Regions from separate parts of the Homo sapiens genome. Here region 1 is linked to region 2. Evidence: fine-mapped expression QTL. Tissue or cell type: lung. Region 2 holds a variant in brackets; the other region holds the start of a gene. All regions are shown on one strand. Distances are from middle to middle.

What was found. PIP is the estimated chance that this variant, and not a neighbour inherited with it, causes the effect.
Region 1: it holds the start of CYP17A1, and the variant in region 2 is fine-mapped to the expression of CYP17A1 in lung (TOPMed, PIP above 0.99).

The regions. Positions count from the first base shown.
Region 1 is chr10:102,833,446-102,841,550 of GRCh38, reverse strand. CYP17A1 (cytochrome P450 family 17 subfamily A member 1) reads left to right here and starts at 4,138. Exons shown (of 8, transcript NM_000102.4): 1 at 4,138-4,486; 2 at 6,159-6,297; 3 at 6,537-6,766; 4 at 7,429-7,515. The coding sequence starts at 4,190. It overlaps CYP17A1-AS1 (CYP17A1 antisense RNA 1), which reads right to left. Exons shown (of 2, transcript XR_428804.2): 2 at 7,047-7,374. RefSeq lists a promoter at 3,899-4,178.
Region 2 is chr10:103,011,519-103,019,624 of GRCh38, reverse strand. All of the region lies in intron 1 of CNNM2 (cyclin and CBS domain divalent metal cation transport mediator 2), which reads right to left. Among named protein-coding and RNA genes, the nearest start is that of CNNM2, 97 kb to the right of the region's middle. The variant C/T (reference allele first, on the strand shown) is at 3,899.

The DNA of each region.
Region 1 (8,105 bases), 180 kb after region 2:
AAACCACAGGGAAGAGACGTCCACGTCAGAGACCACCCTCATACCTGGTGAGATCTGTGCCAACTCCTCAGAAACTGGCACGCCAAATCAAAATGGGTCTGGTTCAATCCTCCCTAATGGCAACAGAAACCCCTCTAACTAATCCCACTTCTCCTAATTCCCTTTCTTTTTCTCCTTACGAACCTAAAAATCTCACCATTTCTATTAGCCTGAAAATAACATCCCCTTATTCTTCTATTCCTCCTTCAGCACTGGATCTTGCTTACAATAGGTTTTATTTAATAATTCTCTTCCTTATACTTTCTGTCTCACCAGTTTCCCCTCACATTGATTTACCTGCTACACAAAATTATTCTTGCTGGGCTTATGTGCCTTTTCCTCCACTTATTCAACCTCTCACCTGGATGGATGCTCCTGCGGAAATCTATACTAATGATAGTGTGTGGATGCCTGGAGCTACAGATGACCGTTGCCCCACTCAACCAGGAAAAGAAGGCACTGCATTTAATGTTCCTACGGTTATAAATACCCTCCTCTGTGCCTCGGACATGCACCTTGTTGTATCCATCTAGAAACTCAAGTCTGGGCTGCGTACCTTCTGGAGAGATCAGCCACAGGGGAACGGGGACATTTGGTCTCCAGCCTCTCCCTTTCTCCTTTAAGACAAATGAAAGGGGGAGTAATAGGAGATACCCCCTACTTTCAATATAAACCTGTAGGAAAACCATGTCCTAAAATTTTTGAGGGCCCATCTAAATCTTTAATTTGGGAAGATTGTGTTAATTCACATGCAGTACTATTAAAAAATGACTCATATGGTTTAGTAAGAGACTGGGCACCAAAGGGCTATTTGAAAAGCAGTTGCTCTTCTGCTGGAAGGGAATGCCTGGAGGCTACTTGTTTTATTTCTTATTGGGAGGACGAGGATCATCATCCTACTTTGCATAGGAGGTTCAGCTCATTCTGTCCCTTAAAATGGGAAGATAAGAGCATTACCCCCTGCCACCCGAGGCCTCTTATGATATCCCCCATTCTGAGCCCAGAACACCCAGAACTTTGGAAATTGGCTATTGCCATGTCCAGACTGCGAGTATGGGAAGGGGAAACTTTTCTTTCTGTTGTCCCCACTACCACCCCTCACATCCGTGATTCTGAAACCCATGATAAATCCCCTTTGGACCATTTTCCTCTTTTTGATGCCAGTCCTCCTTTATGGGACTCTGATTGGCATTATGATAATTCTTCTGGACCCAGGTATGTCCCCCTACCTCTTCAGAATCCCCGGGCACCTCGGATTGCTTCTTTACGGCATCAAACATTGGGCGTTGCCACCGCCACTCCTCCCCCTCGGTATCAACGTAGATTCAAACATTCTGCTTTGTTTACCTCCAGCCTGACTATTATACAGAGTTGTGTTAAGCCTCCTTACATGCTGTTAGTGGGAAATATCAAAATTTGGATGAACAATCAAACCGTCCAATGCATTAATTGTCATTTATCCACTTGTGTTAACTCCCGTTTTGACTCAGGAAAAGTGTAATGTTGGTTCGAGCTTGAGAAGGAATCTGGATACCAGTAACTTTACCCAGAACTTGGGAATCTTCCCCCTCAGTACATTTAATTAATGAAGTGTTACAACGAATTCTCAAAAGATCAAGAGATTTGTTTTCACTTTAATCACTGTGATCATGGGCCTAATTACAGTCACTGCACTGGCCACCACTGCCGGAGTGGCATTACACCAATCTATTCAAATGGCTAATTTTGTTAATGATTGGTAAGGCAATTCCACCCAAATGTGGAATCCTCAACAAGGCATTGATCAAAAATTAGCTAATGATTTAAGACAGTCTGTTATTTGGCTTGGGGACCAGCTAATGAGTCTCGAACATCACATGCAAATGCAGTTCGATTGCAACACTTCTGATTTCTATAGCACACCATATTCCTACAACGAGACTGATCATGGGAAATGGTCAAAGGACACCTTCTGGGTAGGGAAGATAATTTATCCTTGGACATAACTAAATTAAAGAAACAAATTTTTGAAGCCTCTCAAGCTCATTTATCCATTGTGCCTGGAGCTGAGGCGTTAGATCAGGTGGCAGAAAGTCTTTCTGGACTAAACTCCACAACTTGGATTAAGTCTACTGGGGGCTCCACTGTAGGAAATTTTGGAATCATGTTTCTCTGTTTAATCGGCTTGTTTTTAGTGTGCCAGACCAGTCAAAGAATCCTGCATCAAAACCGAGAGAACGAGCAAGCCTTCATCGCCACGGCACATTTATATAAAAAGAAAGGGAGAGATGTTGCGGGAAGTCAGGGACCCTGAATGGAGGGACTGGCTGGAGCCATGGCAGAGGAACATAAATTGTGAAGATTTCATTTTAATATGGACATTTATCAGTTCCCAAATAATACTTTTATAATTTCTTATGCCTGTCTTTACTTTAATCTCTTAATCCTGTTATCTTTGTAAGCTGAGGATGTTTGTCACTTCAGGACCACTGTGATAATTGTGTTAACTGTACAAATTGATTGTAAGACATGTGTTTGAACAATATGAAATTAGTGCACCTTGAAAAAGAACAGAATAAGAGCAATTTTTAGGGAACAAGGGAAAACAACCATAAGGTCTGACTGCCTGCAGGGTCGGGCAGAAAGAGCCATATTTTCCTTCTTGAGAGAGGCTATAAATGGACATGCAAGTAGGGAAGATATCACTAAATTCTTTTCCTAGCAAGGAGTATTATTATTAATACCCTGGGAAAGGAATGCATTCCTGGGGGGAGGTCTATAAACAGCCGCTCTGGGAATGTCTATCTTGTGCAGTTGAGATAAGGACTGAGATACGCCCTGGTCTCCTGCAGTACCCTCAGGCTTACTAGGGTGGGGAAAAACTCCGCCCTGGTAAATTTGTGGTCAGACCGGTTCTCTGCTGTCGAACCCTGTTTGCTGTTGTTTAAGGTGTTTATCAAGACAGTATGTGCACCGCTGAACATAGACCCTCATCTGTAGTTCTGCTTTTGCCCTTTGCCTTGTGATCTTTGTTGGACCCTTATCAGTGGTTCTGCTTTTGCCCTTTGCCTTGTGATCTTTGTTGGACCCTTATCGGTAGTTCTGCTTTTGCCCTTTGTCCTTTCCCTCAGAAGCATGTGATCTTTGTTAGACACTTATTAGTAGTTCTGCTTTTCGCCCTTTGAAGCATGTGATCTTTGTACCTACTCCCTGTTCTTACACCCCCTCCCCTTTTTGAAACCCTTAATAAAAACTTGCTGGTTTGAGGCTCAGGTGGGTATCACAGTCCTACCGATATGTGATGCCACCCCCGGCGGCCCAGCTGTAAAATTCCTCTCTTTATACTGTCTCTCTTTATTTCTCAGCCGGCTGACACTTATAGAAAGAACCTACGTTGAAATATTGGGGGTGGGTTCCCCCAGTACGCTAGTCCTGCTGATGAGCAAAGAAGGTGTTGATGGCATTTTGATCAACAAGAAATGTTATGAAACGGCCTCCCACCTCTGGCATTCCTAGTACTGACCTATCTCTCCCTTCCCTTCCACCGCTCCCCACAGCTTAGCACCCCTTTCGTTCCCATACACATGTACATTTTTATTTTGGGGACCATTAACCCACAGCCCTTATCGCTGCCAAAACCACATGGGCTGGAGGGCCAGGGCTGCATGGACAGTCACACCACTGCACACCAGCCTGGTGATGGAGCAAGACTCTGAAAAAAAAAAAAAGAAGCATAAAAGACCTTTAACAGTCCCTGCTACTTGTGACCCTCCTGAATCTGTCATCTGTCCAGTGATTTTGATTTTGCAACATGGAAAGTTCCAAGCCTTGACTCCTGAGCCCAGATACCATTCGCACTCTGGAGTCATTCAAGCATGGGGAGCTCCTCAGAGGGTGATCAACTGACCTCCCTTACCTAGCTCCTCCTCCGGAGGTTTGCCCTGGAGTTGAGCCAGCCCTTGAGGAGGCCTTCACTCCCACCGCCTCTCTCCCTTCTGGATATGAGCTCAGGCCTGGCTGGGCTCCAGGAGAATCTTTCCACAAGGCAAGAGATAACACAAAGTCAAGGTGAAGATCAGGGTAGCCCTTTAAAAGGCCTCCTTGTGCCCTAGAGTTGCCACAGCTCTTCTACTCCACTGCTGTCTATCTTGCCTGCCGGCACCCAGCCACCATGTGGGAGCTCGTGGCTCTCTTGCTGCTTACCCTAGCTTATTTGTTTTGGCCCAAGAGAAGGTGCCCTGGTGCCAAGTACCCCAAGAGCCTCCTGTCCCTGCCCCTGGTGGGCAGCCTGCCATTCCTCCCCAGACACGGCCATATGCATAACAACTTCTTCAAGCTGCAGAAAAAATATGGCCCCATCTATTCGGTTCGTATGGGCACCAAGACTACAGTGATTGTCGGCCACCACCAGCTGGCCAAGGAGGTGCTTATTAAGAAGGGCAAGGACTTCTCTGGGCGGCCTCAAATGGTAAGTGGTGCCCATCTCCTCCCTGCCCCCTTCACCACCCCCTGGGATTGTTCAGGTCTTCAGACCATGCCTAGAATGGGGCTTCCAGCTCCAACAACCTGTAATTCTTCCCAAAGTAGACTAGTGGGATGATGTGAAGGGAGTGAACCTTCAGACCCCCACCCAGCCTCTAAATTAGGCAGGAAGAATTAAAGGAATGTCTCCTCTACCAGGCTGCCCAGGAGGTGGGATGGGAGGACCACAGTGGTCTGAGGGGTCAAGGAATCCTCACTCCACTCCTCTCTCTGAGCCTAGACTTCTCTAATGGACTGAGAAGGTGCATGTACAGCACTTAGCCTAGCACCCAGCACAGTAAGTGCCCCTTATACAGCCAGGATTCATGTTACTTTTCATGGAAAATGGGGGCAGTGACTACTGTCCTCCATGAAAGCTGCTGGGGAGAATTAGCCTAGCTATTGCAGGCTGGGATTGCTGCTTTCCTGGTGCTATTTCCAGCTACTCAGGCTCACAGGGGCAGTTTTCTACAATGACATTTCAGGGTTGCTGATGAGCCTCCCACTCAGCAGGGCCCCCAGCCTCTCAGCATTTTTTTTTTTTTTTTTTTTTTTTGAGACAGAGTCTCTCTCTGTCGCCCAGCCTGGAGTGCAGTGGCCAATCTCAGCTCACTGCAACCTCTGCCTCCCGGGTTCAAGTGATTCTCCTGCCTCAGCCTCCTGAGTACCTGGGACTACAGGAGCATGCCACCATGCCCGCTAATTTTTTGTATTTTTAGTAGAGATGGTGTTTCACCATGTTAGCCAGGATGGTCTCGATCTCCTGACCTCGTGATCCTCCCACCTTAGCCTCCCAAAGTGCTAGGATTATAGGCGTAAGCCACTGTGCCCTGCCAGCCTCTCAGCTTTGATCAAGCCAAGGGTTGGTTTATTTTTTCTTGGACCAATCAGCCAGGTCTGCTGACCAACTACCTAGCTCCCACCTCTGCTGGCTTCCTCCCGGGGGCAGAGAAGATGGAGAAGGCTAGTCATGTGGATCTTCAGGGTCAGGAAATGGAAAAGGGAGGCTTTGGACCCTTTTGCTTTGGGGGGCACCTCTAGGAGGAGGCGGCTCGGCCCAAGTCCAGACTGGGTAGACAAAACATCTGCACTCTCCAAATGTGGGCTTGTGGCTGGGTATGCAGGCTTGCAATGGAAGGGTAAACCTGAGTGAGGTGAGCTGTGCCTTTAGCTCAGCTAAGGGCTCAGGGAAAAGCAGAGATCTGTGCAGTCCTCAGCCTCTACAAGCTCACCTGCTCCCTACCCTCTGGACAGGCATAGTTTAGAGAGTTTATCCCATCCAGAGTTGCCTTCCTGTGGTCAGAAACTGATGAGCAAAAAGAAGCCCAGAGGGCACCCTGTCAGCGAAAAGAACCCCAATGCTGCTGCATTCTAATTAAGGGTTCTTTCTTTCTCCTTGATCTACTGTATTTCTGAAGGAATTGGGAGTAGGAGGCCTTAGGGTCTGTCCTACCAAGTCCTTGCAGTCATGGTGGAGTGCAGTGGGGCTGTGCCCACATGGGAGTCAGCATGCCAGGTACCTGCCTTCTCCTCCAGGAAGGAAAGCAGGGACCAGAGGTGTAAGGGCAAGAGTGGGGTGGATGGTGTGAGATTCCTACAGCCTTGCCTGCTCTCTAAAGGCAACTCTAGACATCGCGTCCAACAACCGTAAGGGTATCGCCTTCGCTGACTCTGGCGCACACTGGCAGCTGCATCGAAGGCTGGCGATGGCCACCTTTGCCCTGTTCAAGGATGGCGATCAGAAGCTGGAGAAGATCAGTGAGTGCCAGGCTGGCCCCTGGGGCTGGGGCTGGATCCCACAGGAGCTGCTGGAGGGAGAGGAGGGTTGGGCAGGGGTAAGGGTTAGGACTAGAGCGCAATGCAGCCTTTTCTTGGCTACTGCTGCCATCTAGTGGCCATCTGCTATCTGTCCCCCGCTCCTGTTAAGAGGCAACTGGTACAGAGAGGGGGTAAGGGTGCTGATTCATTTCCCACCCTCATGCCCCCTCTCCCTTCAGTTTGTCAGGAAATCAGTACATTGTGTGATATGCTGGCCACCCACAACGGACAGTCCATAGACATCTCCTTTCCTGTCTTCGTGGCGGTAACCAATGTCATCTCCTTGATCTGCTTCAATACCTCCTACAAGAATGGGGACCCTGAGTTGAATGTCATACAGAATTACAATGAAGGCATCATAGACAACCTGAGCAAAGACAGCCTGGTGGACCTAGTCCCCTGGTTGAAGGTGAGATGCTGCCAGCCCTGCCTTCAGGTTCTAGTAGACCCTGACATTGTCCCCAATCTTCCTTCCTTTTTACTTCCCTGCTCCAGCCGCAATGACCCATCTTTTTCCTGATTACCTCCGCCACCTCTACCTCCTCTGCCACTTAAAACCTTTGCCATTTCTCTGCAGAGATAGATTTAGCCTTTTAATTATGCACCTTAGTACTCCAGATAATGACCTTCATTTCTTTTCCAATTACCATGTGCCAGTACTAAGCATTCTATACGCATTCATCGCTGAATTCCCCTTGGAAGTAGGTTTTATTATCCCCATTGTGCAGGTGAGAAGCAGGCTTAGCGGGGTTAAGGAGCTTGTCTGAGCCTTCAGGCTCATGTCTCTCTCACTCCTAAGGGCTGGACACATAGCAGAGTCAGCGCTTGATGTTTGATTGAATGGGGAAGGAGAGGTGGAGACCACGCCCTCCTCCCTTGTTTAGAATTGTCTTCGTCGTCATGATAAACCCGTTCTGTGTCCCCATCTTGCCTTCCATTCTGGCTGAAGGTCAGGGGTGGAGTAGGAACTTCCAGAGACAGAAAGCTAAGATCCGCCTCCAGGAGAGACTCTGGCAGCTGGAGAAGCAAAATGGAAGAAGGGTGGATTTAACATTTCTTTTTATTTCCCAGATTTTCCCCAACAAAACCCTGGAAAAATTAAAGAGCCATGTTAAAATACGAAATGATCTGCTGAATAAAATACTTGAAAATTACAAGGTAGGTGATAGAGCAGAAGAGAATATGAGTTAGGCTAAAAGTAATCACAAGAGCAGGGTGGAGTCCATTCTACACACTGTAGAAGCTTCAAAACCAAGCAGAGAACCTGGCACATAGTAGGTGTACAATAAAAACTGACTTAAGGGCTGGGCGCGGTGGCTCACGCCTGTAATCCCAACACTTTGGGAGGCCGAGGTGGGCAGATCAATTGAGGTCAGGAGTTCGAGATGAGCCTGGCCAATATGGTGAAACCCCGTCTGTACTAAAAATACAAAAACTAGGCCAGGCAAGATGGCTCACACCTGTAATCCCAACATTTTGGGAGGCCAAGGTGGGCAGATCACCTGAGGTTGGGAGTTCGAGACCAGCCTGACCAACATGGAGAAACTCTGTCTCTACTAAAAATACAAAATTAGCCGGGCACGGTGGCGCATGCCTATAATCCCAGCTATTTGGGAGGCTGAGGCAGGAGACTCACTTGAACCCGAGAAGCAGAGGTTGCAGTGAGCTGAGATCATGCCATTGCACTCCAGCCTGGGCATTGCACCAAGATTCTGTCTCAAAAAAAAAAAAAAAACTGACTCAAGGAG
Region 2 (8,106 bases):
TGCTACATGGTGAGACGCCTCCATCATCACAGGCTTTCCTCTCCCAGATAATCTGCATTAGCACACCCAAAGGCTGAAATACCTCCCATCTTTAAAAATGAAAAACTTCTCCATGTCCCCTATCTGGTTCCTGCTATCACTCTACTTTACTTCTCTTTACACCAAAAGCCTTAGGAGAGCTGTCTCTATTCACTGTCCCCACTTGCTCAACTTTCATTTCTCTTCCACATGCTCCAAATTAGTCTTGTCCAATAGAACCCCTCTTGTGATCTCCATGACCTCTCATTTTGCTAAATACAATGATTCTTAGCCCTCATCTTGTTCAGTATTTCATTACTCTTTTTTTTTTTTTTTTTGAGACAGGGTCTCACTATGTCGCCCAGGCTGGAGTGCAGTGGTGCTATAATGGCTTACTGCAGTCTCAACCTCCCTGGCTCAGGTGATCCTCCCAACTCAGCCTCCTGAGTAGCTGGGACTACAGGTGTATGCCACCACATCTGAATAAGTTTTTCTATTTTTAGTAGGGATGGGATCTCGCCGTGCTGCCCAGGCTGGTCTCTAACTCCTGGGCTCAAGTGATCTGCCTGCCTCAGCCTCCCAAAGTGCTGGGATTACAGGCGTGAGCCACTGCACCCGGCCGTAAATATCCTTTTAAGAAAGGAGTAAACAGGCCAGGTACAGCGGCTCACGCCTGTAATCCCAGCACTTTGGGAGGCTGAGGTGGTAGATCACAAGTTCAGGAGATCGAGACCATCCTGGCCAACATGGTGAAACCCGACCTCTACTAAAAATACAAAAATTAGGAGGGCGTGGTGGCTCATGCCTGTAATCCCAGCTACTCGGGGGGCTGAGGGAGGAGAATCACTTGAACCCGAGAGTTGGAGGTTGCAGTGAGTGCAAGAGGGAGACTCCATCTCAAAAAAAAAAAAAAAAAAAAAGGAAAGAAGAGTATATTTACCTTGCTTCCACCATATTTTCCTGGTTCTCCTTAGTGGAGATTCCACCTCAATCCTCTGTACTAGCTTCTCATTCCTGACCTCTAAAAATCAGAGCACTCTTGAACCTCCACTTTTGGATCTCTTTTCTTCTGTCTATACTTCTTCATTTGAGTAATGATCTCATTTTGTCTCAAAATTTTCATTATCTATCTGCTGGTGATCTTTTATGTCTCCCTCCAGATCATTCCTCTGAATTCTGGATTTATACATCCAATTGCCTACTTAGTATCTCCACTGGCTGTCTACCAAGCATATCACACTTTCTTTCTCTAAATATGTTCCTCCTTTAAGGAGGGGAAGGATGCATTAACATCTACCCAGTTGTTCAAGCCAAAAACCTAGGCCTCATCCTTACCTCTTCTCTTTTTCTATCCAGAATCTGATTTTTTCTCACCACCCCCATACCTCTACCCTCTTGGTCCAAGTCACTATTCTTTCTCCCCTGAATTACAACAGCTTACTGATCTCTTTGTCTCACCCTTGCTCTCCACAGTAAGTCCTTTGCAGAAAAGCCAAAGTAATCTTTTCTAAAGGGTAAGATTCTGCCACTCCCCTGCTCAAAACTCTCCCAAACCTCCCCACTAGAGCAGCTCGTGAGGATCTTTATGGTGCCACAGCCCACCGATTTTGGCCTGGCGGCTTGCCTTTTTTTTTTTTTTTTTTGAGACAGATTCTTGCTCTGTCCCCCAGGCTGGAGAGCAATGGTGCTAACTTGGTTCACTGCAACCTCCACCTCCCAGGCTCAAGTGATTCTCCTGCCTCAGCCTCCCGAGTAGCTGGGATTACAGGTGCCCACTACCATGCCCAGCTAATCTGTATGTTTAGTAGAGACAGGGTTTCACCACATTGGCCAGGTTGGTCTTGAATTCCTGACCTCAGGTGATCCACCTGCCTCAGCCTCCCAAAGTGCTGGGATTACAGGTGTGAGTCACTGTGCCCAGCCTGGCTTGCCTTTCTCTAGGCACTTCTTGCTGTTTATCAAACACAGTCCTATCCAAGAAGAGTCTTTGCTCTTCCTGTCTCCACTTCTGGAAAGCAATTCCTCACATGTTCACACTCATTATCCCCCACTTCATTCAGGTCTCTTCTCAAATGTCACCTCCTCACAAGGCCTTTGCTGACCACTATCTAAAACAGTTCCCCTGCCCAGTCACTATGCCCTTTCTCTGCCATACATACCACCTGCCAGCATCTGATGTTTTGGTTCATATTTATTTGCTTAGTCTGCTCCCCACTTAGATACTGAAACCAAGAAGGCAGGGACATGACCTGATTCACTGCTGTCTCCTCCATGCCTAGAACGCTGTCTGCCACATAGTAGACACCTAATGACATCCTCCATCGTACGTCTTCATGCATTCGTCTACTAGCTGTTAATAATCCATCTTTTGCCACTCCTCCAGAAGTTATCAGACCAGAACATTAAAACATTAAGTTATTACAAAAGATTTCAGACACGACGAACAGCGTAAAAGAAAACAAACATCCACGTTCTTACCACCAAGCTTAAGGAATAAAACCTTTCCAAGTATTGTTGGGCCTCACAAATACCTACTCCACTGAGAGAACTTAACACCAGACTTGAAGAGAACCTGAAGGAGAAAAGTGTTTGATTCACCCTTTTTTAACCTGGTTAAAAAAAAAAAAAGGAAACAAAACTATATGACAAAGTACCCCCCGCCCAAAAAAAAAGCCCTATGTTGCAGTGAGATTGGGGCTTTTGGATGGAGGAAACAAAAGGAAGAAACAAACAACAGGGCAGGAAGCAGCAGGGGCCAGCAGAGCGTCTGAGGAGTAACACCCAGGAAAGGAGGCTACGGGCAAGAGTGAGGCAATGTGAAGAACTGGCCTCCATTCGCTGTCTTCCCTATTGAATGCTTGAACTATAGAAGGATCATCAAGTAGGCACTGAATGATTACAAACGAAGCCTGGCTTCAAGACCAGGATCGAATTGGTTAATACACATCCAGTTACATCATAGAAAGTTTAGACGACACTGTAATTTAATCACACCGCTTGGCATGGCAGCATATATCAAAACTGGCAAATAAGTATTGCAAATGACACAGGAAACAAGCTTGTGGCTTGAAAATAAGTGGGGGGTAGATGTAAGGCTTGTCTGCTCCCCACTTAGATACTGAATCCACGAAGGCAGGGACATGACCTGATTCACTGCCGTCTCCTCTGTGCCTAGAATGCTGTCTGCCACATAGTAGGACTTAAATAAGTCCTTTAAAAATCTTTTCAATATTTTGAAATATTGAAATATTGAAAAGATTTTTAAAGGATTAAAATTACACTGGAAACACCATGACCCATTAAAAAGAGATCTTTTAGAGCTTTGTCACTAGAGAACCGTATCAGTAATCCAACAGAAAAATTTGATATGCAATGAAATCACTAATGTATCTAACAGTACCTAATACTATTCTACCACAAAAGCAACTGGCTCCATGGAGAATAGCTGATTCTAGCCTTGGGGGAAGCGGGGGGCTTGGGGGCGTGGGAATCTAGATGGGGCTAGATCTTGTTTCTGTCAGAAAGTCTACAAAGGAGCCAGTTTAAAGGCTCAAATGACAATCTGACAATTCAGTTAAGATTCATCAGTCTTAATGGTACTTAAAAGGGGAGAAATCTTAAAAGCTGTAAGGGGGCAAGTAGAGATTAAAATCCAGCCAGGCCTGGGGTGAGCTTAACTTTGAGCTTTTGTAATTCATCTACCTAGAGGGGCACCTTTCTGAGTTTTTTGTTTGTTTTTTGTTGTTGTTTTTTTGAGATGGAGTCTTGCTCTCTTGCCCAGGTTGGAGTGCAGTGGCATGATCTCAGCTCACTGGAACTTCTACCTCCCGGGTTCAAGCGATTCTCCTGCTTCAGCCTCCCGAGTAGCTGGGATTACAGA[C/T]GTGCAGCACTACGCCTGGCTAATCTTGTATTTTTAGTAGAGATGGGGTTTCACCACATTCGCCAGGCTGGTCTCGAACTCCCGATGTCAAGTGATCCACCCTCCTTGGCCTTCTAAAGTGCTGTGATTACAGGCGTGAGCCACTGCAGCCGGCCGGGCACCTTTCTGTTAATTCACACAAAGGTACTATTTGTGCTAGAGATGGTCCTCGGTATGGAATTATGACATACATGAGTTTCCAATAATTTGTAAGTGTTATAAATCAATCCAAATTATTACATGAGTATTTATTAGACACAGTTCTATCAGTGCAAATCAGTCAGTAAAGACACAGTTTGAGTAGGGTCTGCAGAATTCCATTCCCTCTAGAGCAGGTAAGAGATTGTGGTCAAAAATTGGGTAAGCACAAGAGGTACAGGCTTGGACAATCCCACCACTATGAAAGAGCTTAGCCCAATAAATAAGCCTCAAAGTTATTGACCCAGTCCTAAATCTCCACCCCCAAAACTCTATAGCAGGTTCGAAATGGTAATTTTGTCCACCTTGGTTGGGTAAATTTGTAACCCCTGAATGAATAAATGGTAGTGATATATTTGTATAAGTTGTATTTAAGCAAGTGTAATCATCATTTTTGTAACCATTACACTCATGAGTATATGTTCTGGTTTTTCAAATGTTTAAAATTCTTAAGAGACTATTTGACTTATTAAAGTTATGTAGTTGATTTACTGGAAGAAGTTTGAAGTGCCTGGGGATATCAGATATATTAAATTTGTAAGCATGTTTTGAAATGTTTAAGGAATTCTAGTCAAGTTTATAATTTTTTTTTTTTTTAAAGACAGGGTAGTGCTCTGCCACCCAGGCTGCAGTGCAGTGGCACAATCATAGATAACTGCAGCCCTGAACTGCTGGGTTCAAGTGATCCTCCCACCTCAGCCTCCCAAAGCTCTAGGATTATAGGCATGAGCCACTGCACCCAGCCTGTAAATGGTATTTAATAGAGGAATTTCATCTGTCAAATGTAAAAGCGCTTGAGCATCAGTCAAAAAACAAGCAAATAGGCATTTTTAATATTAACACCCAACTAAATTTTTCAGTGAATTTTTAAGTATATTTAAGGTTTAAAGAAAAGTGGGCTTTTAAAAATCATAATTTTAATAAGCTAAGCTCTGACCAAAGCATAAATAACTCAGGAACTGTCTGGCATAGCAGAATCGAGGGCTTTGCTCCAAATTCTCACCCGCTTGACCTTAGGCAAGTTACTCGAATTTTTGTGCCTCAGGGTCTCCATTTGTAAAATGAAATAATACTATTAATACCTACATCAAGACCCTTGTGAGGACTGAGTTAATATATACAAAGCACCAAGAACTGTTATTGAGTAAATTGCAGGTGCTTCATCAATGTTAGCTAGATTATCACCATCGTTAGTATCACTGATACCACCTGCCAAGGCTATGCATACTTTGAGGGCAAGGACAACGTCTTGTCTTTACATGCCTAACATTTAGCATGCTGCCTGGTACCCAATAGGCATGCAATTAATATTGCCTGAATTTAACTGAAGAGTCTAAAATTCTAGCTATCAGGGTATGACTTTCAAGCTGTAATGCGTAAAGAGAACCAACATGACAAATGGCAGGGGCAAAGATAAACAGGCCAATGAAAAACAAGATTTTATACAGTCAGAAAATACTGTTTCTTACAATTTGGAATGGTTCTTACTTACTCTAGGAGTTTCTCAGGTCCTAATTGTCTTAAGGGAATTTCTACTGGGATTAGACGATGAGAGCTCATCTAAATCTTGACCCTAGATCTAGAATTACACAGATTTAATACAGAATTTGAGCTGTCCCTCCAATAAATTTAATCTAACACAGTTTACTCTAGAATTAATTACTTAAACTTTTTCCAGTCACCATAACTTGTTTCTGAACTAAAGTATAATACAACCTTAACTCATTCAATCTAGGCACCCTTTTTATTTTCCATTGCTCTTGCAATTTTCCAGCAGTTTACTCTCATTTGAGTTCATTACCAGTACTCCAGATGGAAACTTTCCCTAATAGGTTGTTCCATTCACAGCGATTTAGAAAGCACTGTTTGCGTCACAGTTTTCGGCTTGGATAAAGGGAGCTGTTACTTCAAACCCCATTTCTTCTTGGTGTCCTGCAGTCAGTCACACCTGAGCGCACCCAGCACTCAGCCTGCCTTCTACTAACGACCTTTTAAAGCAAAATGCTTTAACCCACCAGGTAGCAGATTTCCCTTCCTTCCAGTGCACAGTAAGTCCATGCAGGCTATAATTCCTTCAACAGACATCAAATGACTGCAGTAACAGTAAAAAATAATTCACAATTACTGAGGGTGCTCTGCGTGCCAATGTGTTTGTATATCTTAATTATTCCAAGAACTCGTGAAGAAGAGACTATTTATCCCATTTTATAAATCACAAAACAGACTTAAAAAGGAACTAACATTCCCTGGGTTTTTATCCTTACTTTGAAGGTGTCTGGATTTGACAAAAACAGTGTCCTTTTGTAGAATAGGGCCCTATGAATTATTATCCTCATTTTATAAATATTAAATATCAAAGATTATACAGCTAAGAGGCACACAGAACCAGAATTCAAGTCTGTCTGATTCCAAGATCCACACTGTAGCTTATTTTGCTATGTTACCTATTCAATTTTATGAAGGTCTTTTGCAGCACACTCTTCTACTCTCAGCTAAGGAATGAAAAAACTGCCTAAAAAGGCTTACTTATTTCATATGGTACTTCTTTCTATGTTTGAAGCAAGATAGGAAAAGGAAAGAGAAGGAAGGAAAGGCTATGGTAAACTTTCTCTCCAAAGATTTGATAGCACTGGAGAATGTTCAGTATCTTTGGATCTGATAGGGTCTAAGAAAGGGTTCAGTACTTAACCATATTTCACTATAACTCTAGCCAGTGTGGTACAGACTGTTGTTGTAGAGAAGAGTTTATTCACCAAACTATATACTGAAAATGAAAACTCATTTGTCAAGGATTAGATCACTCATATAGGCAATAAGAATTTGTCTTTAAAAAAAAAAAAAAAAAAAAAAGTCTTGCTCTGTTTCCCAGGCTGGAGTGCAGTGGTGCAATCTCGGCTCACTGCAACCTTCGCCTCCCAGGTTCAAGCAATTCTCCTGCCTCAGCCTCCCAAGTAGCTGGGATTACAGGCACCCACCACCACGCCTGGATAATTTTTTTGTATTTTTAGTAGAATCAGGATTTCACCATGTAGGCCAGGCTGGTCTTGAACTCCTGACCTCAGGTGGTCTGCCGGCCTCGGCCTCCCAAAGTGCTGGGATTACAGGCGCGAGCCACCATGCCCAGCCTGGCAATAAGAAATTCTTAAACATTATCAATGATACCTAGGAAATTACATAAAATCTCTCCTACATTGGTGGTGGGGGTGTTAACTAATATAATTTCATTGGAGGGCAATTTGGCCAAATCTACAAAAATTGCAAATGCAGGTATCCCTTGATTCAGCAATTCTACTTCTAGGAATTTATCCTACAGGGAAACTTACATAAGCATAAAATGATGTGTAAACAATGAAATTCTTTGTTGTACTGTTAATATCCTGTATTTCTGGAAGGATATACAAGAATAACAATGGCTGCCTCTGAAGAGTGTGCTGATCTGATAGCAAGGGGAAGAATTTTCACTATATACTTCTCTGTGCTTTAAAAATTGTATACATTAGGCTGGGCATGGTGGCTCACACTTGTAATCTCAGCACTTTGGGAGGCCGAGGTGGGCAGATCACGAGGTCAGGAGTTCAAGACCAGCTTGGCCAACATGGTGAAACCCCGTCTCTACTAAAAATACAAAAATTAGCTGGGCATGGTGGCGCGTGCCTGTAGTCCCAGCTATTTGGGAGGTTGAGGCAGAAGAATCGCTTGAACGAACCTGGGAGGCAGAGGTTGCAGTGAGCCAAGATCACGCCACTACACTGCAGCCTGGGCAACAAGAGTGAAACTCCATCTCAAAAAAAAAAAATTATACATACACACACACACACACACACACACACACACACACACACAGTGCAAGTATTACTTATGCAAAAGAAAACTAAATAACAGTTACCAGTTGCTTTTTGCATTTTCTTTTCTCACTTCTCTCTGACAATCATAATTCCTAAGCTTTTCATTTAATTCTTGAAGCATTTTTT